Regions from separate parts of the Homo sapiens genome. Here all the other regions are reported to be linked to region 3. Evidence: microRNA targets listed by miRTarBase, many of them from high-throughput screens and not tested one by one. Region 3 holds a microRNA gene; each other region holds the end of a gene's coding sequence.
The links. The annotated mature microRNA hsa-miR-218-5p reads UUGUGCUUGAUCUAACCAUGU and lies in region 3 at 1,925-1,945, opposite strand. An mRNA with a match to its seed (bases 2 to 7 or 8) in the 3' UTR can be bound and repressed. Matches are read on the target gene's strand: a 7mer-m8 pairs with bases 2 to 8, a 7mer-A1 pairs with bases 2 to 7 and ends in A, and an 8mer does both.

Region 1 (5,373 bases), not on the chromosome of region 3:
CTGAGGGGCGGGGAGGAGAGGAGGGGGGGGGTACGAGGCCGGCTGGGCGGGGGGCGCTAACGCGGCTCTCGGCGCCCCCAGGGGCCTTCCTGCTGTGCTGGACGCCCTTCTTCGTGGTGCACATCACGCAGGCGCTGTGTCCTGCCTGCTCCGTGCCCCCGCGGCTGGTCAGCGCCGTCACCTGGCTGGGCTACGTCAACAGCGCCCTCAACCCCGTCATCTACACTGTCTTCAACGCCGAGTTCCGCAACGTCTTCCGCAAGGCCCTGCGTGCCTGCTGCTGAGCCGGGCACCCCCGGACGCCCCCCGGCCTGATGGCCAGGCCTCAGGGACCAAGGAGATGGGGAGGGCGCTTTTGTACGTTAATTAAACAAATTCCTTCCCAAACTCAGCTGTGAAGGCTCCTGGGGGCTGATGGGGAGTGGGGAAGAGGGGTTTCTGCCTCAGTGGCCCCAGGCCCCCCAGCCAGTTAACCTCTTTCTCCCCGCCAAGGAAGCCCACAGAGCAGACCCCACCAAGCCGGCCGCCTGCTCAGGGTGAGGGGGGAAGGGGCCCCCGAGAGCCACTCAGTTCCGCAGCGCTGGGGCCCAGCTTCCCCTCTCTGCAGGGGAGAGGAAGCAGCACCCAGCAGGGCAAGGTGTCTCCTGGGGAAGCCCAGTTCCGATGGGAAGAAACAAATGGGGAGAGGCGGGGTGGGGGGCTGTCAGCCGCCAGGCCCTGCCCGGGCCAACTCCCACCTCTGAGAACCAGGCACAGGGGGCTCCAGGCTCATGCTGCCCCAGCAGACCCCGGCAGGGGAGCCCAACCTGTCATTTTAGAAGCTGCCTTGAGGCCAGAGCCTAGCTTCCTGCCAGTCCCTGGCCAGAGGATGCCCCAAGCCCCACAGCAAGGGGCCTGTGGTGATGGGTGGGGCCCCACCAAGTGGCTTCCCTGGAGGGAGCTCCGTGCTCAGTCACCCCTGGTGCCCAGCCAACCTCTGCCCAGCGTCCACCAATGTGGCTGGGCCAAGGGGTGGGAGCAGGGAGGCGGCAGCGGGGCCAGGGGCTGGGCAGAGCGACCCAAGCTGCCTGTCTGCACCCTGGCTCCATCAACCAGTGCAGCCCCTGACCCTGGGGGAAGAGGGGCGGCTCCCAGGGCCCTCCATGCAGGAACAGCCTACCCTGGACTGGATCCAGCTCTCTCCCAGGCCCAGGTTGTGGGAGAAATGGGGGACCCTCCGCCTCCCAATCGTGCTGGCTGGAACTTTCCTGTGCTGGGGATTCGGCGTTTGCAGCCAGGGTGGCCAGTCAGGGTGCCAGGCTCCCATCTGAACACTGACAGACTGTGGGCTGTGCAGTCTACAGCATTGGGCACAACCTCAGCTTGCTAAAATACTCAGTGCAGGCTGGGTGTGGTGGTCACGCCTGTAATCCCAGCTACTCGGGAGGCTGAGGCAGGAGGATCCCTTAAAGCTAGGGAGTCAAAGCTGCAGTGAGCCGAGATCGTGCCACTGCACTCCGGCCTGGGTGACGGAGACCCTGTCTCAAAAAAGAAAAGAAAACGAGTATTGGGTGGAGAGAGGACCAAGCCCAATTACTACTTTAGTGCGGCTGCCCCGTCCCGTCTGGTGACCACGCACTTCTGTGATGGCCTCAGCGGCTGCCTCCTCCAGGACACCTTCTCCGACTACCTGCTTCCCAGGACCAGCCTGTCCCAGTCACCCCCGGAACAGACTGAGTCACAGTGGATTCCTCTCAGACACCCGTGAGAGTGAAGGAGGGGCTCCCGCCAGCTTTGTCCCAGGACCCACAGCCCCACACGTGCCTGACAGCGCTGGAGGCCATGGGAGGTGCACATGCATCTGGGGGTCCTGGGGGTGCTGACAGCCCTGGGGCAGGGCGACCTCTGACCATCAGCCTCCCAGGCTTGGAAAGGAGGAGCTGTGGAAACCTGGGATCCCAACAGACGCGTGGTGCTTGGCTTCTGTTTTACGGAAAGTTGGGGAAGAGTAAGTGGCCCCCACAATTCCAGGGAATACCCCCACTCCATTCCTGCAGGGCCTGGCGCAGGAAGCCAGGTGGCATCACTGCTGGCGGGGGTCACTGTGCCAGAGGGCTCCCACGGTGCCTCCCCCACCAGGCAGGGGTTCAGCTACTTCCTGCAGCTGTGCTCTCTGCAGAGATGCTGGTGTTCTCAGCTTTGGGGGATTATTCTTAAGAGGTGCAGGTCCTCAATTGCCTGCCACCTTTATGTTGGTTAAAACCCAAAGGAGCAGGCCCAGCCCTGCTGTCTCATGGAGGTCAACCCACGGCCCGCCTGCCTGGACAGGGCAAGGCCAAGCAGGGCCTCTGAGATGCCTCCACCTTGCGGCAATGGCAGACCCTGCTGGGTTGGATGAAAAGCCATTGTAGAGTCTCAGAGGAAGGGCCAGGCGGGCTGAGGGTCAGAGGAAGGGCCAGGCGGGCTGAGGGTCACAGGAAGGGCCAGGCGGGGTGAGGGTCACAGGAAGGGCCAGGCGGGCTGAGGGTCACAGGAAGGGCCAGGCGGGGTGAGGGACAGGCGGGGTGAGGGGCAGGTGGGGTGAGGTGCAGCATCTGGAGCGCGTCCTGCAGCAGCCCAGACACCTTTTCCAGCCTCCACTGCTCACTGGCAGCACCAACGGTGCAGCACCGGGCACGCCTGAGCAGGATGATGAAACATCAGTGAGGGCTTGGCCTGGCTGGGCAGAGACTTTACTAAGTAAATAGGCCAGGGCGGTGGCTCACACCTGTAATCCCAGCACTTTGGGAGGTCGAGGTGGGTGGATCACCTGAGGACAGGAGTTCGAGACCAGCCTGGCCAACACGGAGAAACCCCGTCTCTACTAAAAATCCCTAAACTAGCTGGGTGTGCTGGTGGCCACCTATAATCCCAGCTACTCGGGAGGCTGAGGCAGAAGAATCGCTTGAACCTGGGAGGCGAAGTTGCAGTGAGCCAAGATTGTGCCACCGCACTCCAGCCTGGGTGACAGAGTGAGACTCTGTCTCAAAGAAAAAAAAAAAAGAAAACCGGAATAAACCAGGTGGTCCTGAGAAACCCAGAGACTGAAAATATCGGGGGGCCTCTGCGGGGCCCAGTGAACATCCCCTTCCAAGGGGGCTTTGGCCACCTCTCGGGCTCAGCTCCAGCTGGTGCAGAAAGCGCTTCAGAGGCAAACATCAGAATCACTGGTGCAGGTTCCTCCTGGCGCTGCCACCCTACCCCAGGTGCCTGCTGAGCTGTTGCTGAGTGTGTACTTTCTCGCCCCAAGGCAGCCACAGCCATGGAGCCTTCTGTGTGCAGAGAACACAGGCCATGAGGGCAGAAGCTTCCAGAACAAGAGTGATGCTGCTCCAGCAGCGCTCTTGGTCAGGAGGGCAGGGGGGTCCCATGTTCAGGCCCAGCCCAGTGCCCAAACACGCTGGACACGCCCCCTTGTGCCCCCCACAGGCTTCAGCCCTTTCTCCTCCACCTGGCGCCAGGGCCATGAGAAACAAGGGGGAGACCAGGAGGCCATGAGGCTCTGCGTGTGGATCCCTGGACCGAGGCCACCAAGCTGTCCACGTGGACTGAACAGGCCGTGCTGGACCGTCGGGCTCGCTCAAGCAGCCAGGGCACAGGAGGCACCATGTGCCCCGAAACCTGGCGGGAAGGGCCGTAGGCCTGCTGCACCTCCCAGCAGCCACGAGGGTCTCGTGGAACAGAAGGAACGAAGACCTCCTGGACTACACGAGCCACCAGACGCCAGGGCTTCAGCCCGGCCGCGCTGCCCCGTGCACCGGAGGCTCCGGCCTGGCCGCGCTGTCCCGTGCACCAGAGGTGCGGTGGGCTTGGTTTTCCCACCTGCGCAGTAGGAGGAAGGGGAGGAAACCCCCCCCCGAGGGCTGGCACTGCAACCGGCCGTGTGGGGCAGGGAGACCTTATTTACACTTTATTGACAGACACAACACGTATGTATGTGCGTCGCAGCACAGGCCCTGTGGGCAAGACCGGACGCTCATGATCCCAGGGATAAAAAATCTGTCCGCGAGCGGGCAGGGGGCCCGGGCAGGGGGAGTGCGCTTCCCAGGGCACCATTCGCTTAAAGTGTGTTAATGACTTGTCCAGCAAGTTTCTTTACCTTCCCACACCCCTCTTCTCAACGTCCCCCCAGAGTCCTCAGGGGGGCCTTCGACCTGCAAAAGCCTCACAGGAGTGCGAGGGGCCCCAGCTCCCAGGGCGGCCGATGGAGCCTCACACGGTCACCTTCTCCATCACGCTTTCAGCCACGTGGACTTCGTCTGCCTGGACGGTGACAGCTGCTGACTGGCCGCATATGTGCTGGTGATCCTTCCAGTCCTGGAAGGGAGGACACACCCATGTCAGCAGGGTCAGTGGGTGGAGCAGGGTCTGGGCAGGGTCCCCAAGGCAGACCCCAGAGGGTGCAGCCCTCTGTAACCTCACCTGGAGGTGCTGAGAATGCCCTCCCCAGCCCCCGTGCGCCCAAACTCTGGTGGGCTCTGCTCCAATACAGCCTTCCCCACACTCTCTTGGTTTGAGGAATTGGATCAAAAGGCAAACAACAGGCAGGGCACGGTGGCTCACGCCTGTAATCCCAACACTTTGGGAGGCCCAGGAGGGTGGATCCCCTGAGGTCAGGAGTTCGAGACCAGCCTGGCCAACATGGTGAAACCCCGTATCTACTAAAAATACAAAAATTAGCTGGGCATGGTGGCAGGCACCTCTAATCCCAGCTACTCGGGAAGCTGAGGCAGGAGAACTGCTCAGCCCTGGGAGGCAGAGGTTGCAGGGAGCCGAGATGGTGCCACTGCACTCCAGCCCGGGTGACAGAACAACTCCATATCAAAAAAAAAAAAAAAAAAAGTCAAACAACAAACCAGGGTAAGACTCTCCAAACCAGTTGTTTTGTGTTAGGGATGTAAACAAAAAATATCACACATGCAGAAAAACATTTAAATATGTAAATATTACATATGTAAATTACGATCAAGTTCTGTGGGGGTTTTTTTGTTGTTTTTCGGACAGAGTTTCGCTCTTGTTTCCCAGGCTGGAGTGTAACGCGCAATCTCGGCTCACCACGACCTCTGCCTCCTGGGTTCAAGCAATTCTCTTGCCTCAGCCTCCCTAGCAGCTGGGATTACAGGTGCACGCCACCACACCTGGCTAATGTTTTGCATTTTTAGTAGAGACAGGGTTTCACCATGTTGGTCAGGCTGGTCTCGAACTCCTGACCTCAGGGGATCTGCCCGCCTCGGCCTCCCAAAGTGCTGGGATGACAGGTGTGAGCCACTGCGCCCCGCCCCAGTTCTGTTTTTAATGGCAAAGATGAAAAAGCAAACTGGAACCAGCCCGTGGCTGCAGAGAAAGGAGGTGGGG
Region 2 (5,373 bases), not on the chromosome of region 3:
GTCTTCTACGGAGGTACCTAAAAGAAGCCTTTTGTTTCCTTGACTTCTTTATTCCTACAGCCTCAGTGGTAGGGAGGATCCACCTCACCTGTCCAGCTACTTCTGGCCTTTTTGGGGTCAAACACTACGGGTAAACTCACATGTCATCCTCACTCCTATGGATACACAGAGCTCTTGGAACCAAGCTCTTCTTAAAGTTCTTTACTTTCCTGTCCTTAGTTCAGAGCTTCGTGAAGCTGATCTCCAAGTGAGAAAATCAAGTTCTACTTCCTTTCTCTTCCTTCCTTTTGGCAAGGCCAAAGACTTCACTTATATCCAGCCAGCTACCTTATAACCCAGAAGCCTTTTGGTTTAGGAATGACAGCTAGATTGAAGTGGGGGCTATAGAGGAAGAAAACTGTGTTCACGTCACCACCTTCCCAGATTTCACCCCATCCTCCGTTCTGTTATGCATTTTTATTATTTTTATAAATCAAAAACCAATAATACTTTTGCCATCTATCAAGTGGTCTAATTGTATTTATGCTGAACTTCCTTATACTTGGTTTATATTATTGCAAGTAAGATAGACTTGGAAAAAATATTGACAACTTACGAAATCATCAATTCCTGGGAGACTGGATAGGGAGAGGATTCCTGATTAAGGAAATCTAGACTTAGAAGTCCTAATTTTACACTAGAATAACGCCTTTGTTTTCACTATTAATTTAGAAGAAAGGCTTAGCCTTGGAGGCCAACTTTAATTTTATTTCAAAAGTTTATGATTTTGTTAATTTCCTGTCTTGTTTCTTTTGCCAGGTGGTGTGGGGATGATGTGCTCATTGAGTGAACAAGGGAAGCAGCTAGCTATCCAGGTGTCTAATATCCTGGGGATGGATGTGTGTGGCATTGATCTGCTGATGAAAGATGACGGCTCCTTCTGCGTCTGTGAGGCCAATGCAAATGTAGGTTTCATCGCCTTTGATAAGGCTTGTAATCTAGATGTAGCTGGTATCATAGCAGACTATGCCGCCTCCCTTCTACCCTCTGGCCGGCTCACCCGGCGTATGTCCCTGCTCTCCGTGGTGTCCACTGCCAGTGAGACTAGTGAGCCGGAGCTGGGTCCCCCAGCCAGCACTGCTGTTGACAACATGAGTGCAAGTTCCAGCTCTGTTGACAGCGACCCTGAAAGCACGGAGCGAGAGCTGCTCACCAAGCTCCCAGGGGGCCTGTTCAACATGAACCAGCTGCTAGCCAATGAAATCAAACTACTGGTGGACTGACTCCACTGGTAATTAACCAACAAAACCCTTGTAAAACTTTCTTTCTTCTTTTCTATTTTTAAAACCAACTTGCAATGCTGTTCATGGAGGATGCTCAGGAAGATGAGAGAAAATTAGTAGGATTAGTTGGAGAGAGTGGGAGATAGATGAGACCTCTGCTAGTAAGATGTTACTTTCATTTACAAATCCTACAAATAGAGAGGCAGAATAGGTGGGGTATAGAAAAATGTCAGGCTCTCATAGTTACCCTTTTAAATTGCTAAAAAATGTGTATGCTCATAGGCCATGAGGAACAAATACTTTTTTTTTTTCATGGTCCCTTGCTTTTGTTTTTGTACAAAAAAAAATGGTTTTGCTACAAATATCCAAGTAGCATAACTTCACATTGTGTTGGAAGATTTGTCATCAGTGAGGAAAACATCTGCATAAATTACAGGAATTTTTGTATTATACAGCTCTGAAAATTCTGCCATTTCCTTATTAACTAGCAGCTTTAGTTTGTAGTTTATGAAATCTTGAGGGGCTCTTTTACTGGGATTTCTTATTTTTTTGTTTTTTCCCGCTTAATTTGGTGGGAGGTCAAATTGAATATAACCCAATAAAGGCTTCTTAATGACAAAATTGGCATGTTTGCATGATGAAATGGAAATGAACAGTATTGCAATGTCCGGTATACAAAATAACATTAATTCAATGTAGATAAAATTACACTAGTTTAAAATATGTGCATTCACTTGTATTTGTTAGTGTTTTAGTCTTTTTTGAAAGATGTGCTCTGTTAATGTTGCTTTTTTTTTTTTTTTTAATACATGCTAGTCTAACATTTCCTGCTCTATGCCTGCATCTTTAACAATGGCCAAAGTGAAGAAAATGCTACCTTTTTTGTTAACAAGACACTGACTTGAAACATGTACATTTAAAGCCTTTTATTTTTTCCCTTTTTGTTTTGGTAGTTGGGCATTTAAATAAGGACAAGGAAAAATATTTTTGGGGGCAAATCAAGAGCCTATGAGTTCTAAGTATAAAGCTGAAGTGATTTCGAATGCCAGCGTTATATATTTGCATTTTTCACATTTTACGAGGGAGTATATGTGTATGTGTGTGCACGCATGCATGTGTATGTGTTTTGCTTTTTGTTTCCATCAACTAATCAAAAAGGATAATTTAGAAAATGGAGCATGATGGGAAACAGAGTTTTTGACTTTAAAAAACAGATGAGTTGTTTTCATAAGTAGACTCCACTGGGGTAGAGGTATTCACCTTAAAACATAGGGTGAGTAGATGCTTTTTTAGGCCTTTTTGTGTATATGTACGTTGTTTGTTTTTTTCCTTTTGTTTCTAGCCTGTTCAGTGTACAGTTTATTCAAGGCTACATGCTTTTCTTTAATGCTTCTGGCTATGCATTTTCTCTTTTTACATATAGGATTTGGGATTGGGGGTGGGTTGGATGTTTTTGTTTGGGGACTTATTTAGTAGTATTGAGTCTCTTATAGCCCTACTCTTAAGCCTTCAATACTGTCCACTCTTTATATTCCTTTACTTGCAGAATTTATAAAAGCCCCCAAACTGCATATAATATGAGCCTTTAAAACATGGGTAAAACTAATCCCATTGATGGGTTTGGATGGTATGTTAAGAAATGGAGATGCTGCAGAGCCCAACGTAATTTTTTAAACAGCAAGTTTTCCATCTCCCTACGAATCCTCTGAAGCTTTTACCCAAGCCCTTTCTTGCCTCTCCAGTGCTATTTTCCTTCAGATGGACCTTAAACATAATTTCTTGGACACTACTAGAGAGACTTCGAGGCAATAATAAAAGATCAGTATTAACCAGCTATAACAGAGGTTTGATCATGCTTACTTGTACAGTTTTTCCCCCGTTTTAAAAAGGAATGTAATAAAATTTGTTTTTTCCATAGAATTAAATAATATTAAAATTGAGTGAAAGGTTGATTGTTGATGAATAGAATAGTACCTCTCATCTGTGCAGTGTCTCATTTCACCTCAGAGAAAAGGATACATAAGAGGAGTTTGTAATTTATCTTAGGATATTCTAATTGCATTTAAAAGAACTTATCTTGCGCAGGGTAAATGGGGGACTCACATACATATATTAATACCTCTGACTCATTAACAGAAAGAAATACTTGGTACTTCTTTCGCTGAATGACCATACTGTGGAGGATGCATACTATTTGGTATAGAGAAATAAATGAGGAAGAAAGAACTGCTTAATTAAATTATCATTCATATGTTCATATAGAGACCATCTGGTTGCCATGTGTATTATGACACATACACTTTGAATAGTTACATATCACAAGTATGTAGTTCATGTTTGTGTTGGTGGGGTAAGGCATCAGGAAAAATGTAGTTAGTCTTTTCTTAACTTATACCAAATTAACCAACTATATTATAGGAAATATGTGAAATTAGTTCATTAGCTTTATTCACTATTATGCATTCACATGATATTAAAACGTACACTCACATGTTAGAATGAAAAGAGCAGTAGTTATCTTAGATTTTAAAAACATGGATATCTTCTTGAATTCCTTCAAGATTGAGGTAGAGAATAAGAGCAAATCATTCTGGAAGTACCTTAAGGAAACAAACAGCAGCAGATATTTAGGTTAAACTTATTTTCATAATTGTTTAATAACTTTTGTATAATCTTCATTGCTATTATGAGAGAGAATGTATATATCAAATATGTGTAATGATAAAATCTGAATTGTAAAATTTTTGTATATTGTTAAAATTGTAATTCTAAATTGTATTTCAAAAATGATTATTTCTGATATTGTTTTTATGTCACCCATGATGAAAACTGGACTTTATATATCTAAACATACAAGTATGAACTATTCTATTTAAAATTTTTAATAGTTTTTTTCTTTTTTGGTGCCTATAATTGATTGGTCATTTCTGCTGGCTTTTCTCCAATGAACATTGAAATCTTCCTGTATATGTTACCAATAAGAAAACTACCCTGGAACAGTAGAAAAACCCAACAAGAGACTTGGCATTCATCAAGCACATTATCAGACTTTGAGAACATATTGAAGGCATTGACTTTGAAAATCATCTCTTTTTCTCAAGAAGAAAGCAATGGAGAAGCAAATTTGTTTCATTCAGTGAATCCCCAGTTTGGGGCTTGTGGGGCTTAGAGACATTGTGAAATCAAATCTTGTGTTATACTTTTCTCCTGGCTCACTTTTTTTGAGAAGGTTTATGGGCTATTTGGCTGGTGAGACACGATCCCCTCCTAAGAAAATGTAGGTGCTCAGACAGGTAACCACTGCTGCTACTGTTTTTATTTGTTTGTTTGTTCAATTTTATTTAAGATTTGTTTTTGTTGTACTAGGATTTTAAAAAATGTAATATATTGCAGGATTTATAACCAGGTTCACTGACTGCTTGCTTGCTTTCTTTTTTTTTTTTTTTTTTTTTTTTTCTTCTTAAAAAAACAAAACAAAGTTTCATTTAAAATACATTTAGGCACCTTTGGAGCTTGGATTTTGGAATGTTTCAGTAGTGGACAGAAATCTGCTGTTGGAATCTTCTAGTCTTCCAGGTTTAATTTGAAATGTTTTTAGTTTTGTTTTGGATTTTTGTGTGGTATTTTATTTCCTTTATACCAATGCCATTTTGCCATGCTGTTTTGGGGTGGCTGCCTAACTCTAGTGAAAATTCTTTCTATATTAATGAAAGTTTGGCCTTTGAAGATCCTTAATGTTTTGCATTTTTTACATTGTTTTTAAAGAAATATTCTAACTGCTTGCACTGTTACTGTTCTTTACCAGCCTTTTCAGGAGCCAAAAAAACAAATACAAACAAACAAAAAAATACCCAGAGAAAAAACTTTCCTTCTTCCCCCTTCCTGATGATGAGTGAGAAGTATTGAGAACTTTCGGGGTCAGTGCCCTTCTAAACTCCCCTTCCCCCAATAATGCAGCTGTATAATGAATGGTAAATGCACCGGTTTGGATTCAGGCACAGCCCCAGTCTGCCTACAGGTAATTTAACTCTTTCTCCTTTCTTTCCATCACTAGGCTAACTTTCTTTTTTTAAAACTTCCTTTCTTTACGTACTTTAAAAAGTAACCATGG
Region 3 (5,373 bases):
GGAGGAAAGAAGCAGAAAGAGGAATTGGGGGGAGCGTAAGTCCTGTCAGGCCTCATCAGCTTGAAAAGACAGTGATGTGAATAAGCAAAGGGTCATAAGTGATGAATGACTAAGGAGAACACTGCCAGGCACACAGACATCCACTCATGGGCAAGGCTGGGGGACCAGCTGCCAGTGGCTGGAAGATGCCAACTGTTTTACTAGGAGTTTGGTCACCAGTTGGGCAGGGAGCCGTCCTAGTAAGCTATCCCCTTTGGAGTCTATTATGAGTGCAGCCATCTGCCTGAAAACAGAGGGAAATACCCATGGTCTGAGGCTGGCACTGCCTCATCACAGCCTGTGGCTGCGGGGCCAGTAAAGCACTGATGGAAGGGCACCATTATGGACCCACTCCCAGAGGCCTGGTCCCTGCCATGTTAGGGGCAGTGCCGAGGGCCTCAGAATGCCCCTCTCTGTAAGGTGGGAAAGGGAACTTCTCCAGGCTCGAGGATTTGCTCTGTGTTAAATGGGATCTTTGTATGTCCATGCTGGAGAGGAACAGCCATTTGAATAATGCTTTCTCTCTTACTCAAGTTCTTTCTACTAACAGATGAAAGTCTGAAAGGGAGAGTTTAAGCAAATTTCAAGTCCCTATCAAATCACAGTTTTTAAATGTTCTAATTCAAGGCAATGGGGTTGTCCACAGCTGGGAAGGTGGGTATTACAGCAGTACAGTGCAGCCATTCTGGAATCAGATGACCCTGGGTAAGTTAGCTAACCTCTCTGAGCCTCAATATCCTCATCTGTAAAGTGGGACTTTAGATTTTGTGAACATTAAACAAGGTAATGATGTGAAAACAGTTCACTGCCTGGCCTATAGCAAGCACTCAATGTATGTTAAAAAACTACTAAGCAATGGTTGGGCTCCTGGTTCTGAGGGGTAACCTCAGATAGACGAGGTAATAAGAGTCACACCTCATGATGGGGGCCCAGGGCTCAGCTTCTAGTTCTGAGCTAGGCTAAAGTTCCCACCTTAGCTCTCTCTTGCAGAATAGGACAAAGACTCCAGGACAGGAATGAACAACACAGTCTTCTGGTTACACTGGGTCTAGGATTTATCAAGGAACAAGCAAAATAAGAGGTACCAAGATCCCTCTCTTTATTATCAGAGATAGCAGGTTTCCACGTCCACACACACTCCCCTCCCCTGAAACAGAATTAGCACCAGGTGAGGAGCCCAGCACCTCCACGTTAACTGTGCTTTGCAGGTCAAGGAAACAGACTGGACTTTAGGTTTCATGGGGTTCAGGGACTGTGTTTTCATAAAGTATGGGAATGAGGTTCAGAAGGAACCTTGGGTTAAACCCAAAGTCTCAGACTCACATGAGTTTCACCCATTCTCATGCTGACGTTCATTTCAAATAAAGTGAATACCAATAAAGGTGGTGGTGGGAGGGGTCGGGGGTCACAAGCAGTAGGAATTCCCCTTTGGGTTAGCTGCCACTTGGAAAAATGACCTTGGGTTGGGACTCTCCCATGAAACCATGGGGCGTATGCCTTGGGTATACTTGTTCCCTTCCAGTGGAAGAAGAGACACAGTAGTTTCTGAGCTTGAACCTAGTTATTACTCCTTGTCTGACATCCAGACTAGATTTGGGGGAGGGTGACTCCATTTTGGGAAAGAGATGTGGATACAGATCTCTTTCCCCAGGGTGCTTCTCCAGACCCATTTCCCTCTGTATCTGCATCCTTTGAGACTCCTACCCTCCTGCCTTTGGTGAGTTGAGACTGGGAGAGGTGGGTCTGGCAGGTGGTGGGCTGCGGTGCTCCAGAGCAGAGGAGAGGTGTCCAGCGGTGGTGGCGGCGGTGGCGGGCCATGCTGCAGGAGAGCACGGTGCTTTCCGCGGTGCTTGACAGAACCATGTTCCGTTTCCATCGTTCCACCACATGGTTAGATCAAGCACAAAGGAAAGCCCCGCAGCGACTGGTCAGAGTCAAGGTCAGGAAGCAGCGTCAGAGAGAGGACAGGAGCGCTCAGAGGAAGCAGCGTGGAGAAGCGGAAGCCGGAGCAGGCCCCCACTGAGCGTGATTAGTATCAGGAGTGGGGTTCCACTGGAACACTTCCGAAGATTGCAGCCCTGCTGCCCTTGTGCCCCACCCCAGGGAGACACAGTAGGAAGGGAGAAGAACGGGAGGGAAATCACTGGATGCCCATACTCGGGAGCTTCAGGACAGCATGGTTCCTTCCCAAGGAAAGAAAGAACACTCAGACATCTGTGATCCTATCACATGCCTGAATTGAGCCTCTAAACTCCATTCAGTCACACCAGTTGGTCTGACAAGACATTAAACTTAGAAAAGCATCTTCTGCATGCTTTGCAACATAGGCCCAATCCCCCCAACAGCTGAGTGGTTCCATCACAGTCATTCCTCTAGCCCCTTAAGTCAAGAGACAATCCACAGTTCCCAGTGGTCTAGCAAACCTTCAATGCTGTTCTTTAGGAAAAAGCCCCCTTTGACATTCCACAATTCAGGAGTCTCCTTTATATCCTTTGAGGTCAGCAGGAATGCTCTGGCTGATAGACACTCATCCCAGATCATTTGAGGTTTAATAGAGGAGCAGTGGGGTGTCAAAAGAAAATATATCTCTCTAGCCAGAGAGAAAGACAGGAAAACAAATGGGGCCGTAGGGTTTGGACTGAGGAACCTGCAATCATAGTTGTTGTTTGAGAACACTGACTTTCACAGAGATGGTGGCCAGTGCGCCTCCTGATGAAGGGCCTCTTTGAGACTAAGAGAAGGAAGGAAAGGGAAGCCAAGTGATGAGTCTGAGGGGAAGACACTGAATTCTGGGGTCCTTCTTGATTTCTTGTTCTCTTCCTTAGCTGGAAATTATGGGAGCGAACAGGATGAACCAATAACCACTGTCAGGATGCCAAAGGCCCAGGTGAGGGTACCCAGTTTTTATATTCCTCTCTGTGATAGATCAGGGTCAGTTTCCATGAACCTGCTGACTTGGGACTTCCTCCCACTTGGCATTAGGCTGGAGATGTGCATCTTGAAGAAACTGGAGCTAAGGCTAAGTGACTGAGACCCTCCCTGCCTGACCTCTGACATGAGAACCAGTATCAACATTCTTCCACTATGTGTTTTTGGGACTGGGCATATCCTCTAGATGGTCTCAGCATCTCAACGGTGCATAGGTTGTCTGCCATGTTGGACCAGTTAGGAAGAGCCAGCCCACAGCTCTGGGTCTGTCTGGCCTCTCCTCCTTCCTAAGGTCTCTCATCACACGCACTAGAGTCAGCCACTAGAATCTGGACTCCACTCTGCTTTGACACCTATGCAGGGCTCTGTGAACACTGTGGTTCTGGGACTTCAAATGTGAGTTTGATTAGGACCCTGGTACAAGAGCAGGGGAAATCCATCCTGTTCGTGCAAACCGCCACCCTCACCAAGCCTTAAAATCTAATTTTCTTTCTCTTTGGTTTCTTCCTACAAAAAGAAATGGAGGGATTTGTAGGTAAATTATCAAGAGTCTTCACAGTATGTCAGAAGTCCTGGGTTTCAGATCTTGCCCTAAAAATAATACTCAATACCTTAGATAAGATTTTTCTGCTGTGTGGACCTCAATTTATCCATCTCTAGAATAAACTGGATGACCTCTAAGGTTTCTAAAAGTTCTGTAATTCCTTGAGAGCTATCTTGCTGTTCGCCGTCTTTGGACACTTTGCGTCACCACCCTCTGTACTTTTCAGCAAGAGAGTTTCTTCTCACACAAAGCGGGGAGGCATGAAGGAAGACAGACAGCACCCTGCAACTGCCAAGTGCTCCCAGGGATGGGCTTGGGGTCCCAGGCAGCCAGACGGAGCCTTTTCAGGAGGACTTAATCTGATGGTCAGATTACCCCAGCCGGCAGCATCCAACCCTAAACTGATCTTGCTGCCCAAGGCGGCGGATGCAGCTGATAGAGAGAGGCAGACACAGGCAGCTGGGAAACCAGACGCCCTGCCTAAGGAGGGGCAGGATGTGTTACGGAGCAGCCCTCAAATTGCCTCCTAATTACATCAGCTGTCTTTTCAATGGGGGTGCTTTTAGGAAAAAGTAAAACGCAGAGTTATTATCTGTCACATCCAGTCTGTGTCACCTGCCCCCCTTCTTTCTTCTGGAGCTTCCTGGAAACACAGAGCTTTACATCTATGGTTTTTCTTTCCCTCCAAGGCCAAGGCAGGTCTGGAACCCCATGTTTCTCAAAGCCAAGGCCTTTGGAGCTCAGCAGTCATGCTTTCTTTGCAATGACATAAAATAAAAGCAAATAGAGTGCTACGTGTCAGTCTCATGCTAGCTCCAAACATCTCTACTTTTTAGGAATAATCTTTCGCTTAGCATTGTTTTTTTTTTTAAAAAAGGTATCTTAGAGTCAATCCAAGAACCTGGCTCCTTCTCCCTGTTTCTTTTTTAAAATGTTCAGCTTCCCCTCCCCCACATAGGAAAAGCAGCCAGGATCCTGCAGATCTACAGGTAGGACGATAGTGGCAGAGCTAGAGTTAGAACTAAGCTCTACTGCTTCCTAGGTCCACTTTCCATTTTCCTTTTCTCCTACTTAGTTCTTTCTATAGCCCCACCCCCACCTTGCCACCCCCAACCACAGTCATGCCCAGAAAATTGCCAAGACTGTGTTCCTGGGGAGATACCAGTCCTTGGATCCTGCACTCTTTCCCTGCTGTGCCACGCAGGGCCGCCACATCCATTTGGGGTCCAAAGTACTAACAGGATACTTATGAGACCAAAGGGTCAAGGTTGGCAGATAATACCCTGCCCTCCTCTGGCTCTCACTGTCCTTCTTTTTGGGTACCACTGTTTGGCAGAGCTAATTAACTCAGCCCTGGCCAGACAGGGGTAGGAATAGAGGCCAAGGTTGGCGTGAGTCATGAGGAAAGGTGCTGGGGATAGGACGATTGTGCTTTGGGTGAGATTTTCTTTCCAGAGATGTTGCCAGGCCCAGGAAGGAACCTGAGGACAGTGTTCAGGGAGCGGGTAGGGGTGGGAGCATGAGACCAGGGAAGGAGGTCATCCAAGCAGCTGATTGTCATCCCCAAATATTCCTTCTCTCCCAGATGCTGTGTGGTGTGAGGACCAAAATGAACCTGAGGTTTAGTCCTGCCTCCGCTGTTTGCTGGCTTGTGAACTTGGAGTGCCCCTTCACCTCTAAGTCCTCAGTTCCCTCTCCTATAGAGCAAAGGGCTCTCCTACTGACTTCCCAGGACCATTGGAAGAAGCAAATCAGACTAGAAGCCTCCAGTACCACGCTCATCGCAGGTGAAAGATGGCTGTTGTAACTGACATCATTATTCTAGGGAAGGGAAGTCGGTACCAACTTTTCACAGTGCCACA
Region 4 (5,361 bases), not on the chromosome of region 3:
TTAAAAAAATTAATCAAAGGTCTGTACTAAAAGCTCTGTAGCTATAAAGATGATTGTGAGAGTTGCATTTAATAATTGTGATGTTGGCCGCTGACAGCTGAAGAAAAATGCTGTTTTTGACAGAGTGTCAGTTAAATCCAGACCTGAACATAGAGGTGGAAGTTTCTTTGCAGAGAGAGAAGACAGGGAGGTCAAGGAAAGTGACCCCAAGAGGGGTTCAGATGACAGCCACAGCACCCCCAGGCCAACGTCCACATGAGCCTTCCGCGCCCTGCACGGCTGCTCAACCCGATTGTCCCATCTTTTGGCAGGCGCAGATCAGGCCTCTATAACCGCCAGGAATCACATTCAGCTGGTGAAACTGCAGGTGGAAGAGGTGCACCAGCTCTCCCGGAAAGCAGAAACCAAGCTGGCAGAAGCACAGATAGAAGAGCTCCGTCAGAAAACACAGGAGGAAGGGGAGGAGCGGGCTGAGTCGGAGCAGGAGGCCTACCTGCGTGAGGATTGAGGGCCTGAGCACACTGCCCTGTCTCCCCACTCAGTGGGGAAAGCAGGGGCAGATGCCACCCTGCCCAGGGTTGGCATGACTGTCTGTGCACCGAGAAGAGGCGGCAGATCCTGCCCTGGCCAATCAGGCGAGACGCCTTTGTGAGCTGTGAGTGCCTCCTGTGGTCTCAGGCTTGCGCTGGACCTGGTTCTTAGCCCTTGGGCACTGCACCCTGTTTAACATTTCACCCCACTCTGTACAGCTGCTCTTACCCATTTTTTTTACCTCACACCCAAAGCATTTTGCCTACCTGGGTCAGAGAGAGGAGTCCTTTTTGTCATGCCCTTAAGTTCAGCAACTGTTTAACCTGTTTTCAGTCTTATTTACGTCGTCAAAAATGATTTAGTACTTGTTCCCTCTGTTGGGATGCCAGTTGTGGCAGGGGGAGGGGAACCTGTCCAGTTTGTACGATTTCTTTGTATGTATTTCTGATGTGTTCTCTGATCTGCCCCCACTGTCCTGTGAGGACAGCTGAGGCCAAGGAGTGAAAAACCTATTACTACTAAGAGAAGGGGTGCAGAGTGTTTACCTGGTGCTCTCAACAGGACTTAACATCAACAGGACTTAACACAGGCCTCTTGTTCCTTCCTTTCTTTCCGTTTCTCTATTGTATCCAAAGGAGAAGAGTGTAAGATTTTGTTTGCATCTGAAAGAGAAAATGCGTCTCTCCTGGGGTCCTATGCAGCCTCCTTCCTTGAGGTCCCAGACTGCAGCGCCCCAGGCAGCGCCCGGAATGCCCCGACAGGTTCCTGGCAGCATTTGCTACACTTTGGCTCCCATTCAACATATGCTGGACAAGTTAGCTGGGTTGCAGTGTTTTTAATCAGAGCTAACAGGGTGAGAGGAGTTAAAAAACCAAGTTGGCATTTTCTGTAGAGCAGCAGGCATCAATTTCGCATCACGATAGAGAATCAACACTGAGTCCACTCTCAGGCTGTTGCCCAACCCACCCTTCAGCGCTGGGGTATGGGGCCAGCTGCACACTTGAGCCCCTCATCTGTCACCAGTGCCCACATGGTCCACATCTCGAGGGGGCTGAGGCGGTGAACCAGCAGGAGCCCCCTATACAGGCAGGGGTCTAAGGGGTCCAGGGGCCGCCGGATTCCAAATGTCTTGAAGCCAGCATGGTGCATAGGGCTCAGCCCCAGCCGCCTCAGGCACATACCCACAAAGACATCATCAATGGGGAAGAGTTCAGCATCTTCCATGATAGCCTGGAGGCGCCGCACTGTGGCTCTGGACATGACATATCCTCCCCCACCAGCATAGGGTGGGTAGTGGGTGGCCCTGTACATTGAGGGTGGGATGAAGTATTTGACCTTAGTGTTCCTGTTGGGCAGGGCTTGGCGGATGACATCTCCCACCAGGAGGTCCTGGGCTGGGTCCCAGCCATCCAGGAACTCTAACACGTTGGGGACGTGGACAAAGACATCGTCATCTCCCTTTAGCATGAAATGGGCCTGGGGGCAGGCAGCCACCACCCAGCGCTGCAGGTGCAGCTCCTTGAGCGTCAGGTTGAAGAAGTCCTCAGTGAAGTCCCACTGGAGGATGTCATCAAACTCCCTACTCTCATAGGCCAGCAGCTGGGCTGGGGGAGCGGATCCTGCCACCCCTAGGAGGAACACCAGCTTCAGCTGCCGGCCCCTAGCCCATCCCCCCACCCTGCCCCACGTGCTGCGGATAGCCGCACGTCGCTCCACGTGACCAGGCTGTGACTTGATGGCCAGGAGCAAGAAGGTATCCTTGGAACAGCCTGAAGGCTCCAGCAAGATAGAGAAATTTCGGCAGTGACGATAGGTCAAGAAGAGACGGTGACGGCTAGGCAGGGACAGAGAGGCGCTAGACACTGTGTGGTTGGGTGGACACCGGCTGTGACGGGGTGTTGGGGGAGCCCAGAAAGGCTGGTGGGCCGTGGGGTCTCCTGCGGGCTTGGCCGCCTTCCTCAGGAAGAGCAGGCAGCCGAGCAACAGCACAGCCAAGCTGTACGAGACCAGCCAGCACAGCCTGCAGAGCATCGCCGGTCCCTGCAAGGAGAGAGCCACCTGAGCAGGGCCCAGCCCCGGGTCCCTGTCCCCAAGAGTTGGGCAGGAGTTAACCTGCACCCCAGCCGCTAAGTCCCTGCTGGCCTCTGGACTTTTTATTCTCAGCGTATCCTCAGGCTCTTTCCAGAGTCCTCCCTCCCCTGAGGATGGGCTAAGCACAGCTGCTTTGCCAGCCCTTGCCCTCCTCTGCCATCATCTGAGGACTCCTGGGTCTGTTTTTCCCAAAAGGACTTGCAGCCACTTTACAGCTGACACCATAAACGTTCCCAGCCATTCTTCCAGGAAACTCGAGCACCTGATGAGTTTTAGGCACAGACTCAGTTTAGCTTGGATCAAATTCACTAAGTGTGGAACTGACATTCAGGGCTTTTCAAGTGGGAAGTGAAACCATTTCCCAAAAAAAGCTTGGTGCCTGTGGGGTCCTGTGTTGGGCGTCTCCAAGATGACCAGGAGTGCACTGCTTCCCTCGGAGGAGAACCAGCACCACAGGGTGGCCGTGGCCACCAAAGCACACACCCTTTACACCTGCCTCAGAGGTCGGGGCTTCCAGGAGGGAGGGAGGGAGACAAAGCCACACACCACAAGAGGGGAAGCAGGAAAGCTGGGGACTTGTATCAGGGATGGCTTCCGAGGCACCCCGCCCCGCCTTCCCACCACGTTCTAAGTGCTGATTTCTCCCAGGGACCTGAAAAGAAGGATGAGGAGACAGAATCCACCAGTGTGGCCTGCCCGAGCTCCACGTAGCAAAGCCTGTCTTCAGTTTCTCATTTTTGTCCCTCTGGTGTCTCCCTCTGCCCCAGTCCCCTCCCCTTGACCTCCACTGCCAAGTCATCCTGTCCCTTCACTTCTGACCAGTCTGCCGCATTGGCCACTGCCACAGCCGCCGTCACCAGAAAAGCAACTGCTAGGTGCTAGGGATGCAGTGGCAAGCAAGACAGGGTCGCTGCCCTCTCAGAGGGGAGCACAAAACGCATAGGAACCAGGTATGTTGAGAAGTTACAGTCTAATGCAGAGAATTGGCTGACGCGGAGGACGGATCCCATAGCCAAGGGTAGCTAAAAAGCCCTCCTTGATGGAGGGACGTTTGAGCAAGAACTGAGTGAGGAATGGCACCTTGCGTGAAGACCTGGGGTCTCTGCAGGCCGTGGGCAGAGTCAGGCAGCTCCAGGGCAGGAGAGAGGGGAGAAAGAAGGGAGACGGGGGCCCAGCAGGTTTACAGTAGGAAGAGGCCAGCCCGGCTAGTGAAAGAGCTAAGGGTTTTGTTGGTTTTTTTTGAGACAGTGTCTCTGTCACCCAGACTCTAGTGCAGTGGCACAATTATAGCTCACTGCAGCCTGGAACTCCTGGGTTCAAGCGATCCTCCGGCCTCGGCCTCCCCAGTAGCTGGGACTACAGGCGTGCAGGGCCCGGCTAATTTATTTTTTGTAGAGATGTGGTATCTTTTGTTGCCTGGGCTGGTCTGGAACTCCTGGCCTCAAGCGATCCTCCCGCCTTGGCCTCCCAAAGCGTTGGGACTACAGGCGTGAGCCACCGGCCAGAGTTTTCTGAGCCCCCTGGAGATCTATGCGGGGGTGGGGGACAAGGGGGTCTGGCAGAGGCGGTGAAAGAATCTGACCTTTGGTAAAAGGCCACTCCTACCGCCCCTTCCCTGGTGGGCTGCGGAAGGCTGGGGAGGAAGCATGAACGGCAGCTGGAGACTGTCTCCGTGCTCAGGATGCCGGGCGGCGGCGGCGGCGGGGTCGAAGCGAGATGAGTCTCAGGTGTGCGAGCACCGCGGGCTGTGGACGAGAGGCCCGGGCGGGCGGCGGTGCCATTCACCGAGAAGGGCGCACAGCAGGTGGCTTGGTTCCGTCCCAGGAGGTTTCAGCCCAGGCTGCGCCGCGGCCCGGGTGGCCCCTGTCCCGCCGCGGGCGTCCCCAGGCGCTGGCCGCACGGCCTCGCCCCGCCGCCCTCCGAGCCGCGGAGACCCCAGAGCCCGGCTCTCCACCCGCCGCGGAGCGCACGACCCCGTCTGGTGGGGCGCGGGTCCTGAGGCTGCGCTCGGCCTTGGGCGGCAGCCGCCTCGGATCCCCACAGGACTCGGTGACCCAAAACGCCCTGGCGCGGGCAGGGGGCGAACTCTGGTTCATTCTTTCAACGCGACAGTCTCCGAAGGGCTGACGGCAGCAGAGACCCACTCTGCGGGGACCCCCGGGCCGGGGTTGGCAGCAGCGCTGCGCGTCGGGCGCGGGCGGCCCAGGCTGGCGGGGTCTACCGCGCCCGGCTCCAGCCTCTGTCCCCAGCCTGGAGAACCGAAGCCGAGCGGCCCGTGGGCCCCGAGCCGTGCCCGCCGAGGCCAGACTCGCGCCGCACCCGGGCGGGGCCGGCGTCCTCGCGGGGACCCTGGGGGACCGGGGAGCGGGCCGCGGGGTGCAAAGGCACGGCCGCCCTGGCGACGCCCCTCCCTGCACGGTGACCCAGCCTCCCTCACAGCAGCGGCGTCCCGGCCCCCAACCTACCTGAGCGTGACGCCGGGGTACGGGCGTGGAGCTCGTGCAGCGGAGCCAGGGCGGATGGCGCCCAGGTGCGCGGAGCTCTCGGGGCTCGGGAGTGGGCGGGGCTTCTGGAGGAGGTGGGAATTTGGGGCGGGGTTCTGGCGGGGGCGGGTTTGGGGCCTCCCCGGACCCAGCCGCGGGTCTCCGCAGCGCCGGAGGCTGGACGCACGCGTCCCGCGCCCGGTCCTGGGGTCCGCACGAGCCGGGTCGGGCAGAGGCTGCTCCTCCTCCCCAGGAC
Region 5 (4,069 bases), not on the chromosome of region 3:
ACTGCGAAATAAGTAAGTCATTTATTTATATATGTTCCTGTGTACAGGGTAAATAGGGTATTTGTGCAATAGTAGTAAATAGTAGCATCTTCAGTTATAAAAATTTAAAAGTTTTCTTGGCTATTGAAACAGAAAGATGCCTGTAGTTCATAAGTCCTACTGTCTTTTTTTGAGACGGAGTCTCACTCTGTCACCCAGGCTGGAGTGCAGTGGCGCGATCTTGGCTCACTGCAACCTCTGCCTCCCGGGTTCACGCCATTCTCCTGCCTCAGCCTCCTGAGTAGCTGGGACTACAGGTGCCTGCCACCACGCCTGGCTAATTTTTTGTATTTTTAGTAGAGGCGGCATTCCACCGTGTTAGCCAGGATGGTCTTGATCTCCTGATCTCGTGATCTGCCCGCCTCGGCCTCCCAAAGTGCTGGGGTTACAGGCGTGAGCCTGTATTTAATCCTGCTGTCTTTAATACAGGGTGAAAGCCTGGCTTACTAGGTATTGACTCAGCAGGGATTTTTCTCGGCCCCATATTCAAGTAAATGATTGAGTATATGTCTTATGTGATTAGGCTGAAATGCCTTCATCCCTTCTGTAGGACATGGACCCCCGGCTGATTGCATGGAAAGGAGGGGCAGTGTTGGCTTGTTTGGATACAACACAGGAACTGTGGATTTATCAGCGAGAGTGGCAGCGCTTTGGTGTCCGCATGTTACGAGAGCGGGCTGCGTTTGTGTGGTGAATGGGGAGGAAATGTCACTGCCGAAGACCAAAAACAAGCTTCTTGGTATAAAAGACTCTTACAGAATATGTGTATTGTAATTTATTGATCTGGATGCTTAAGTGTCATGGACAGTAAATGAATTTGAACTTTATGTTGAGGACATGACATTGGTTTGAAAATATAAACTGCTTTTGAGCAGTTTAGTCAGGGCATTTGAGAATAAATAGGAACTTTCTCTTCAGTTGTAAACTCTCTTGCCCTCTCTCAGGGTCTCATAAACTCCCCAGTGATGTAAACGTTGCTATTGAAGGTTCTCATGTGGTGAAGCCCTTCATTTAAGTTGGCTTGAATCTCATCAGCAGGCAGCCTCATGCAACCATGAGGGATAGTATGTGACGAGGGAGAACTGTCCACTCATGCCATTTTCTCTCTTGTCTAGTATTTCATTAGGATCTAAAGTTGTCTGAGTTAAATGCACTTATGTGACTCATGTGTCCTCTTAGAATCCCAAATAGGGGGAAAAAGTTTTGGTGGTTTTTGTTTTTTTTTTCATTTTCTGTTGGATTACAGAAAAAGAATGGGACCCATTCAGGTCTCGATTTCCAAAGGTAAAGATGGAAGGCTGGGCAGACTGGCTTTTGTTACCTGACATGCCGTAGGGTGAGCTTAGAGGAAGAAAGAAAACAATTTTTATTTGGCCAAAACAGAACAAATGCTGAAAAGGAAATCTTGTTTTTTTCCTAAAGCCAAATAGAAATGATTTGGGTATAATTTAAGAGTCCTTGTGTTGTACAGATATGGTGACTGATGTAGTTATTAATACTACCAACTTAGTCATCAAGCCTCAATTTTCCTTTACCTGAAGGATTAAGTGAAAGCTTTTGGAGTTCATGATGTTCAGTATGATCAGTTAACCTTAACCTCTGAGCATCCTGAAGCAAAATCTAAATAATGCAGCTATTACCACTGGTGGTCCAGGCTCTGGTGAAGCCCTCTGAGCCCAGGAGGAAGAGAAAGCATTGTCCAGAGGTAGGAACACAGTCTGGGAGCCCAGAGCTCTGGGAGGAGTGGGAAAATGCTGCTTCCTGCTGCTTGCTTCTAGGCACCTGCTTCCGCCATCTCACTTACCATGGCTAGAGATGGGGGTGAGACTGGGGAAGGACAAAAGCAGGGAACAGATAAGTGATGGAAATCAGAAGGGAATATAGAAAGAACTCTGGATGTGGAGAAATGCCGGTACCTGAGCATTTTGTATCAATGGGAGTACCCTCTGTAACTGCTCAGTAGGTTACAAATGAAGAGTCCACCAGTATTAGAAACAATTTAAACTTGCCAGTACCAACTGGGATGTGTGCCTTCAATTTGAAAATTGTATGTTTTATTTTTTAAATTTGTTAACAGCATTAATTTATAGAGTATTGATGTCATTTATGTTTCTGAGGTGTTTCAACACAATTTTGGATCAGCTGCCTGTTTGCAAAAACATAATATATTTCTGTTAAACAGTTCTTCACCTAACAGCATATTGCTCTTATAACTGGTAGAGCTGTTTCAAAGGAAGTTGGTTTCTGGTCCAAGTTTTGACCTAAACCATGTCCATCTTCTATTACCAGCACTTACAAGCACTGTGAAAACTGATCATGACAAATAAGTAAAATTTGCTACATTAAACATATTGCCTCAGCCATTACTAAGCGTCCACTTGTAAAGCTGGACACAGTTTTTACTTTATGCTTCATTTTGATTTTTTATCCGTAAGACATAAATTAGAAGGCATGAGGTGGCCCTTTAAGGATAATCTGCAAATATACACATTTTAATAGTCATCCATCTGAAATCGATCCACATTCCAGAGAAGATTCAGTATTGTGCTGTGTGAAATAAGCATTCCCAGAAAAAAAACATTTATGCTAATAATACAACATAACCTCTGCATTAAAGAAAAAGATGCTTTTAGGCCAGGCGCCGTGGCTCACACCTGTAATCCCTGCACTTTGAGAGGCTGAGGTGGGTGGATCATGAGGTCAGGAGATCAAGACCATCCTGGCTAACAGGGTGAAACCCCGTCTCTACTAAAAATATAAAAAGTTAGCTGGGTGTGGTGGTGGGTGCCTGTAGTCCCAGCTACTCAGGAGGCTGAGGCAGGAGAATGGCGTGAACCCGGAAGGCAGAGGTTGTAGTGAGCCGAGGTCACGCCACTGCACTCCAGCCTGGGTGACAGAGTGAAACTCTGTCTCAAAAAAAAAAAATTTAAAAAATTTAAAAAAGATGCTTTTAGAAGAGTAAAAAGTTGGAAGACAAAATGTGCATCTTTTATGTTCTGTCATTCTGTGGGGGTTTTTTCGTTTGTTTGTTTTAGACAGGGTCTGCTCTCACCCAGGATGGAGTGCAGTGGCACAATCACCGTTTACTGCACCCTTGACCTCCAGGGCTCAAGTGATCCTCCCATCTCAGCCTCCCTAGTAGCTGGGACCACAGGCTTACACCATCACACTCAGCTAATTTTTTAAATCTTTTGTAGAGATGGAGGTCTCGCTTTGTGACGTAGCCTGGTCTTGAGCGATCCTTTTGCCTTGGCCTTGCCAAAGTGCTGGGATTGGAGGCATGAGCCACTGCACCCACCCCTGTTTTTTATTTAAGTAAACCATTATAATAACTCATTTATAAAAAGGTTACTTCAAGAGGGCTTTCAACTTAAGAATTATTTTCATTTTGAACATGAAAAGTTAAATAGTAACTAAGAAACTGAGAACTCTGACAGTGACCTCTAATAGGTAACTTTAGGCAAAAGTAGACAAGTTTGTGGGTATTTTGTTGTTCATGTTAAAAGGCACCTGTACAAGAATCAAGATATGAATCTAGTTTGTAGAGGGAAGGTCTTATGCAAATACCAAATCATACAAGTGGTTACACATATAATAGATCATTTGGTCCAGTAAAAGTGGGTTCAGCTTGTTTATTCCCTACTTTTGTTATCTTAAAAACAATGATTTTTTGCATGTAATAGAAGGTTTTTCACTTAAGATGCTATTGAGTGAATCAGTGAGGGGTTCTTAGAGTTAGTATTCATTAATTAAACATAGAATATTAGCTAAACAGTTCTGGGTACACTGCAATGCATGGTCTATGGAAGACTAGATGTTTGGCTGAAGATGCTTTATTGTTGCATTATCAAAATGGTTATAGTTTTCAATTAAAACTGTAATTGATTTCTATGTATAAAACAGCTTTGAAGTTGTAAATGTAGTTTCCAATCGTTAGTTAATGCTACATTAGTTAGCAATATTTGAAAATTTTATTGGTATAAAATGTTTTAATTACTAAGGCTGTTTGTAGGCTGCATAGTAAGCTTCA
Region 6 (4,000 bases), not on the chromosome of region 3:
ACGCGGGCTGTGAGATGCTGGGCAAGTCTGGCACTGTCTCGTCTGTGAGAAAGTGTTAATTACAACAGTCCCCCTTCCCAGTGCTGCTGTGAAAACAAAGGGCCCATCACAAGGAGGGAGCTTGATAGATGTGGCTCTTCTGACCCAGGGTTCCAAAGGTCTTGTTGTTGGAATCAAAAAGAATGTACTTATAGATAGAAACCTGCAACTAGGGCTGAGCGCAGTGGCTCACGCCTGTAATACCAGCACTTTGGGAGGCTGAGGCGGGTGGATCTCCTGAGGTCAGGAGTTCGAGGCCAACCTGGCTGATACGGTGAAACCCCATCTCTACTAAAAATACAAAATTAGCCAAGCATGGTGGCTCGCGCCTATAATCCCAGGTACTCGGGAGGCTGAGGCAGGAGAATCGCTTGAACCTGGGAGGTGGAGGTTGCAGTGAGCCAAGATTGCGCCATTGCACTCCAGCCTGGGAAACAAGAGTGAAACTCAGTCTCAAAAAAAAAAAAAAAAAAGAAAGAAAAAGAAACCTGCAACTAGAACATCATAAGGCGAGCAACTGCCACTTTTTTTTTTTTGAGATGGAGTCTCCTTCTGTCACCAGGCTGGAGTGCAGTGTTGTGATCTCAGCTCAGTGCAACCTCCAACCTCCACCTCCCCAGTTCACGCGATTCTCCTGCCTCAGCCTCCCGAGTAGCTGGGACTACAGTGTCCGCCACCACGCCCAGCTAATTTTTATATTTTTAGTAGAGATGGGGTTGCACCATGTTGGCCAGTATGGTCTCATCATCCGCCCAACTCGGCCTCCCAAAGTGCTGGGATTACAGGCATGAACCACCATGCCCAGCCGCAACTGCCGCATTTTTAAGTGAAGAATCCAACCTTCGGAACAGTCGCCATTGCTCCTAACCAATGTCACTCTCAAACACGGAGAAATGAAAACGAATGACGATTCCATAGGTCATCACCACAGAACTGGCTTTTACTAACAAAACCAAAGAACCTCAAACACTTTTTGTGGACTTCAAATTCTTTCCTTCAGATTTTAAAATGACATTATGCATGTACATATTTTTAAAATTTAGACACATTTTAGAGAACACAATTGTGAATACAAATCTAAGAAATGAATGAGATGTACTGAAATCTGATTCAAACACTTATCTTAAACTGACTTCTGTCAATCCTCTGTCCTGTGAAGTAAGTCCCGTTTCTCCTTTGCCTGGAGGGACCGAGCTGGAATTACTGTCACATGTTACAGACATGAGGCAGGGGTTAATGCAGAACCACGGAACAGCACCTCTGATGACATCTAGTGGATAAGTAGGAAGGTGTCAACCCAGGTGGCTTTTAAAAAAATCTGTAAATAAAATCTCCTCCTTTATTCCACAGATTTTAATCTTTCCCTCAGTGTGTTAGAAAGACTAATAGTGTTTTTCAAACGTGTGTGGATGGACTCACCTGGGGAGACACCCGCATCCTAGGCCACCTTTGTGGCTGCTCTGCAGACACCTGGCTGCACCCGCTGCCTCCTCGTCTGAGAGGGGCTGCCCTGGAGAGCACCGTGCTGGCTGTGTTGCCTACTGGCTTCCCTTGAGAAATGGGGAGGCAGGACCTCTACTGAGTGCTGTGATGTGTTATGTTTTGATGTGGTGGGTGGGGAGGATGGGAACAATGTTATTTGGATGAGATTGGACATCGTGTGAGGTCTTCAGCAAAGCAGCTACCCTCAGCTCATTGACGACAGCATCCTGCCTGCAGGTGTGGGCTGCTGGACTGCCTGCAAAGCCCATCAACAGGCCCTGGAGGCCAGGTAAAATAGGATCAGGATGATTTCTATTCACAGAAGTCATCAATCTAACATGAAAGAAAATAATGACTCAGGAGCAAGGGTGTCTGCAGCAAACAGACTCTCCAGGCATCGTTTAGAAGCTGAATGTCACACATTTCGGGTGCCAGCCCCACACATAACCACACAAGTAAAAAGGAAGCTTTTCTCCTAAACTGACATTCTTTTTTCTCTTTTCTGAGAGGTGTGGACACTGGGGCTGGGAAATGCTCAGGCCTCCCCCTGCAGACAAGGACTGGGCTGTTAAGAGAGGCCTCTTGTCTTTCATGACACAAGCCTTAGCTCACAAGACGAGAAGTACCTAGTCCCAGACCACCTCTTCCATGATGACAGAAACCCTTCTAAAAACTGAAATCTATGTGATAGAATTAATGAAGGTAGGCTAACCCAAATTACTGCTCACATTTTTTCAAATAAAAGTCACACAAATACCATAATGTTGTTGGTTAGAACATTATGTTTCTCATATCTATAAATAAGGGCTAGTACTTTTTATCACCCAAAAGTAGACAAAAAATAGGAAATGCATTCATTCCAAATTTAGATTTTGATAACTTTCCAAAAGGTTGAAGTAAGTTTAATTGCAGGGACATGAGTCCAGTTGAGTGTCTTTCTGTTAATCTGCAATAACCCATCTGGAACTGTATTTACTTTTCTTAGAACAGTAACTTATAATGTTGATAAACTGAGGTGGAGCCTGTTTTAGTAACATATACCTGGGTAAATGTTCTGGAACTGCCAGTGCTTAGTCACTGCTGCCTACAGTGTGGCCATCAAAGGCTTCTTGGGAAAGCTCCCTTTGGGTCCAGAAGTCTCCCCAACAAAGCTCCAGCTGCCCTGGACTCTACACAAAGCACCTGAAGCCTCTGCTGGGAATGGGGCCCTGACAGAGCTGCAATGCACTCTGAGGCTTCTTTAAAACACGAAGGTGAGTGTAAAATCCAAACGGGAAGCGTTCAGCTGTGCACTCCCAAACCACCCCAGCACGCCCCTGCAGAACTGCTGGTCCTGTCCGTCCTTGGAGTGGTCGCTCCCTCATTCTCATCTGGAAGGTGCCACAGAAAAGGCTGACAATGTATTATCACTAGGATAGACCCTAGATAATCTTTCTGATATACAAGATAGACACCACCTGTTCCCTCATTTGTCAATATGGAAGAAACCCCACTTTATACATTTTATACAGAAAAGTGGACACTGCCATACATTCATGCATGGTCAGCTCTGAGCCCTCAGGAATAGAAGGGCCTTCCATTTAAAACAGCTTACACCTGGAGACAACAAACACCAAGAAACATGCAAACACTACAGAGAATCTGTATGTGAAGAAGTCATATTTTATATTGATGAGGGTGCTGTTAGAAAATGTTGATGGATGGCTTCGGTCACTCATGCTAGTCTAACCAGAGGGGCCTGTGACGGTGTCTGCTTCTCTTTCAGGATTCCCAGTTGTTTCTGTGTCAGGCACTAAGCAATCTGGTGGCTTTTGGTCCAAATGGGTATTTTAGTTGTCTTTTTGCACCTTTTAATCCCTCTTCGAAGAGTCAAGTTCAAATGCTGGAAACCGTGATGTCTCTGGTCCCAGGACATCAGAGAGAAAGTGAATAGCGCCAGCCATGCCTGCAATGTAAAATGAGGAGCCTCTTAGGAATGGCATAAGGGTAGTGTCTATAACAGTGACTTTTAATCATTTCCCTTACCAGGGGCTGCAAGCATGTGGGAAAGGTGCTGAGGACTCTAAAGATGACTTCATTAAAAACCAAAGATATCCTTATATTTAGCACCTGGCAGGTAATATAATAACACCAGTTTTCCTCACTATCTTATATTTAAAAAACTGGTTACTGGGCTTTAATCTTATATCTTGAAACTTTAAGGTGGCATCACAGAATCGCTATGGAAGTTATGGATGCTGCTAATTACGATATTCCTATACACGGAGCTTCCCCTCAGAGCCTGTATATGCTCAAAGTTGCATTTTATATCTTCTTGATATTTGAAGAATGTTATTTTTAACAAACCTCAATTTGGTCAAAATCCCCACCCCAAATCATTGCAGTAATTGAGCAGTGGGTTTTCAACTAGACTCACAGCAGCTTAGGAAGGGTGTGGGGTGGAGAAGGTGCTAGTAGCCCACCAAGGCCTCCAGGTCTC

Region 1: miRTarBase lists DEAF1 as a target of hsa-miR-218-5p. The part of its 3' UTR that is shown has no 7-base or 8-base seed match.
Region 2: the mRNA of RIMKLB is a reported target of hsa-miR-218-5p. Seed matches in the 3' UTR shown: 7mer-m8 at 4,296-4,302.
Region 4: the mRNA of DIABLO is a reported target of hsa-miR-218-5p. The part of its 3' UTR that is shown has no 7-base or 8-base seed match.
Region 5: miRTarBase lists ACTR8 as a target of hsa-miR-218-5p. The part of its 3' UTR that is shown has no 7-base or 8-base seed match.
Region 6: the mRNA of LANCL2 is a reported target of hsa-miR-218-5p. The part of its 3' UTR that is shown has no 7-base or 8-base seed match.

What each region holds. Positions count from the first base shown.
Region 1 is chr11:640,320-645,692 of GRCh38, forward strand. It overlaps DEAF1 (DEAF1 transcription factor), which reads right to left. Exons shown (of 12, transcript NM_021008.4): 12 at 3,914-4,335. The coding sequence ends at 4,231. It overlaps DRD4 (dopamine receptor D4), which reads left to right. Exons shown (of 4, transcript NM_000797.4): 4 at 82-387. The coding sequence ends at 284. Among named protein-coding and RNA genes, the nearest start is that of DRD4, 5.7 kb to the left of the region's middle. RefSeq lists enhancers at 1-485, 486-1,097, 1,947-2,492 and a silencer at 2,330-2,624.
Region 2 is chr12:8,772,523-8,777,895 of GRCh38, forward strand. It overlaps RIMKLB (ribosomal modification protein rimK like family member B), which reads left to right. Exons shown (of 6, transcript NM_001297776.2): 6 at 799-4,669. The coding sequence ends at 1,262. A2ML1-AS1 (A2ML1 antisense RNA 1) reads right to left here. Exons shown (of 2, transcript NR_046715.1): 2 at 3,689-3,862. Among named protein-coding and RNA genes, the nearest start is that of LINC02972, 13 kb to the right of the region's middle. RefSeq lists enhancers at 1-86, 87-586.
Region 3 is chr5:168,766,287-168,771,659 of GRCh38, forward strand. It overlaps MIR218-2 (microRNA 218-2), which reads right to left and starts at 1,969; the gene lies at 1,860-1,969. The region is part of intron 14 of SLIT3 (slit guidance ligand 3); the gene reads right to left.
Region 4 is chr12:122,203,528-122,208,888 of GRCh38, reverse strand. It overlaps DIABLO (diablo IAP-binding mitochondrial protein), which reads left to right. Exons shown (of 6, transcript NM_001371333.1): 6 at 312-1,221. The coding sequence ends at 508. B3GNT4 (UDP-GlcNAc:betaGal beta-1,3-N-acetylglucosaminyltransferase 4) reads right to left here and starts at 5,180. Exons shown (of 3, transcript NM_030765.4): 1 at 5,088-5,180; 2 at 4,205-4,367; 3 at 1-2,571. The coding sequence starts at 4,270. The coding sequence ends at 1,501. RefSeq lists a silencer at 4,866-5,361.
Region 5 is chr3:53,865,383-53,869,451 of GRCh38, reverse strand. It overlaps ACTR8 (actin related protein 8), which reads left to right. Exons shown (of 13, transcript NM_022899.5): 13 at 590-2,386. The coding sequence ends at 733. IL17RB (interleukin 17 receptor B) reads right to left here. Exons shown (of 11, transcript NM_018725.4): 11 at 3,658-4,069. Among named protein-coding and RNA genes, the nearest start is that of ACTR8, 15 kb to the left of the region's middle.
Region 6 is chr7:55,430,692-55,434,691 of GRCh38, reverse strand. LANCL2 (LanC like glutathione S-transferase 2) reads right to left here. Exons shown (of 9, transcript NM_018697.4): 9 at 955-3,466. The coding sequence ends at 3,372. Among named protein-coding and RNA genes, the nearest start is that of LANCL2, 67 kb to the right of the region's middle. RefSeq lists enhancers at 1,229-1,308, 1,339-1,388.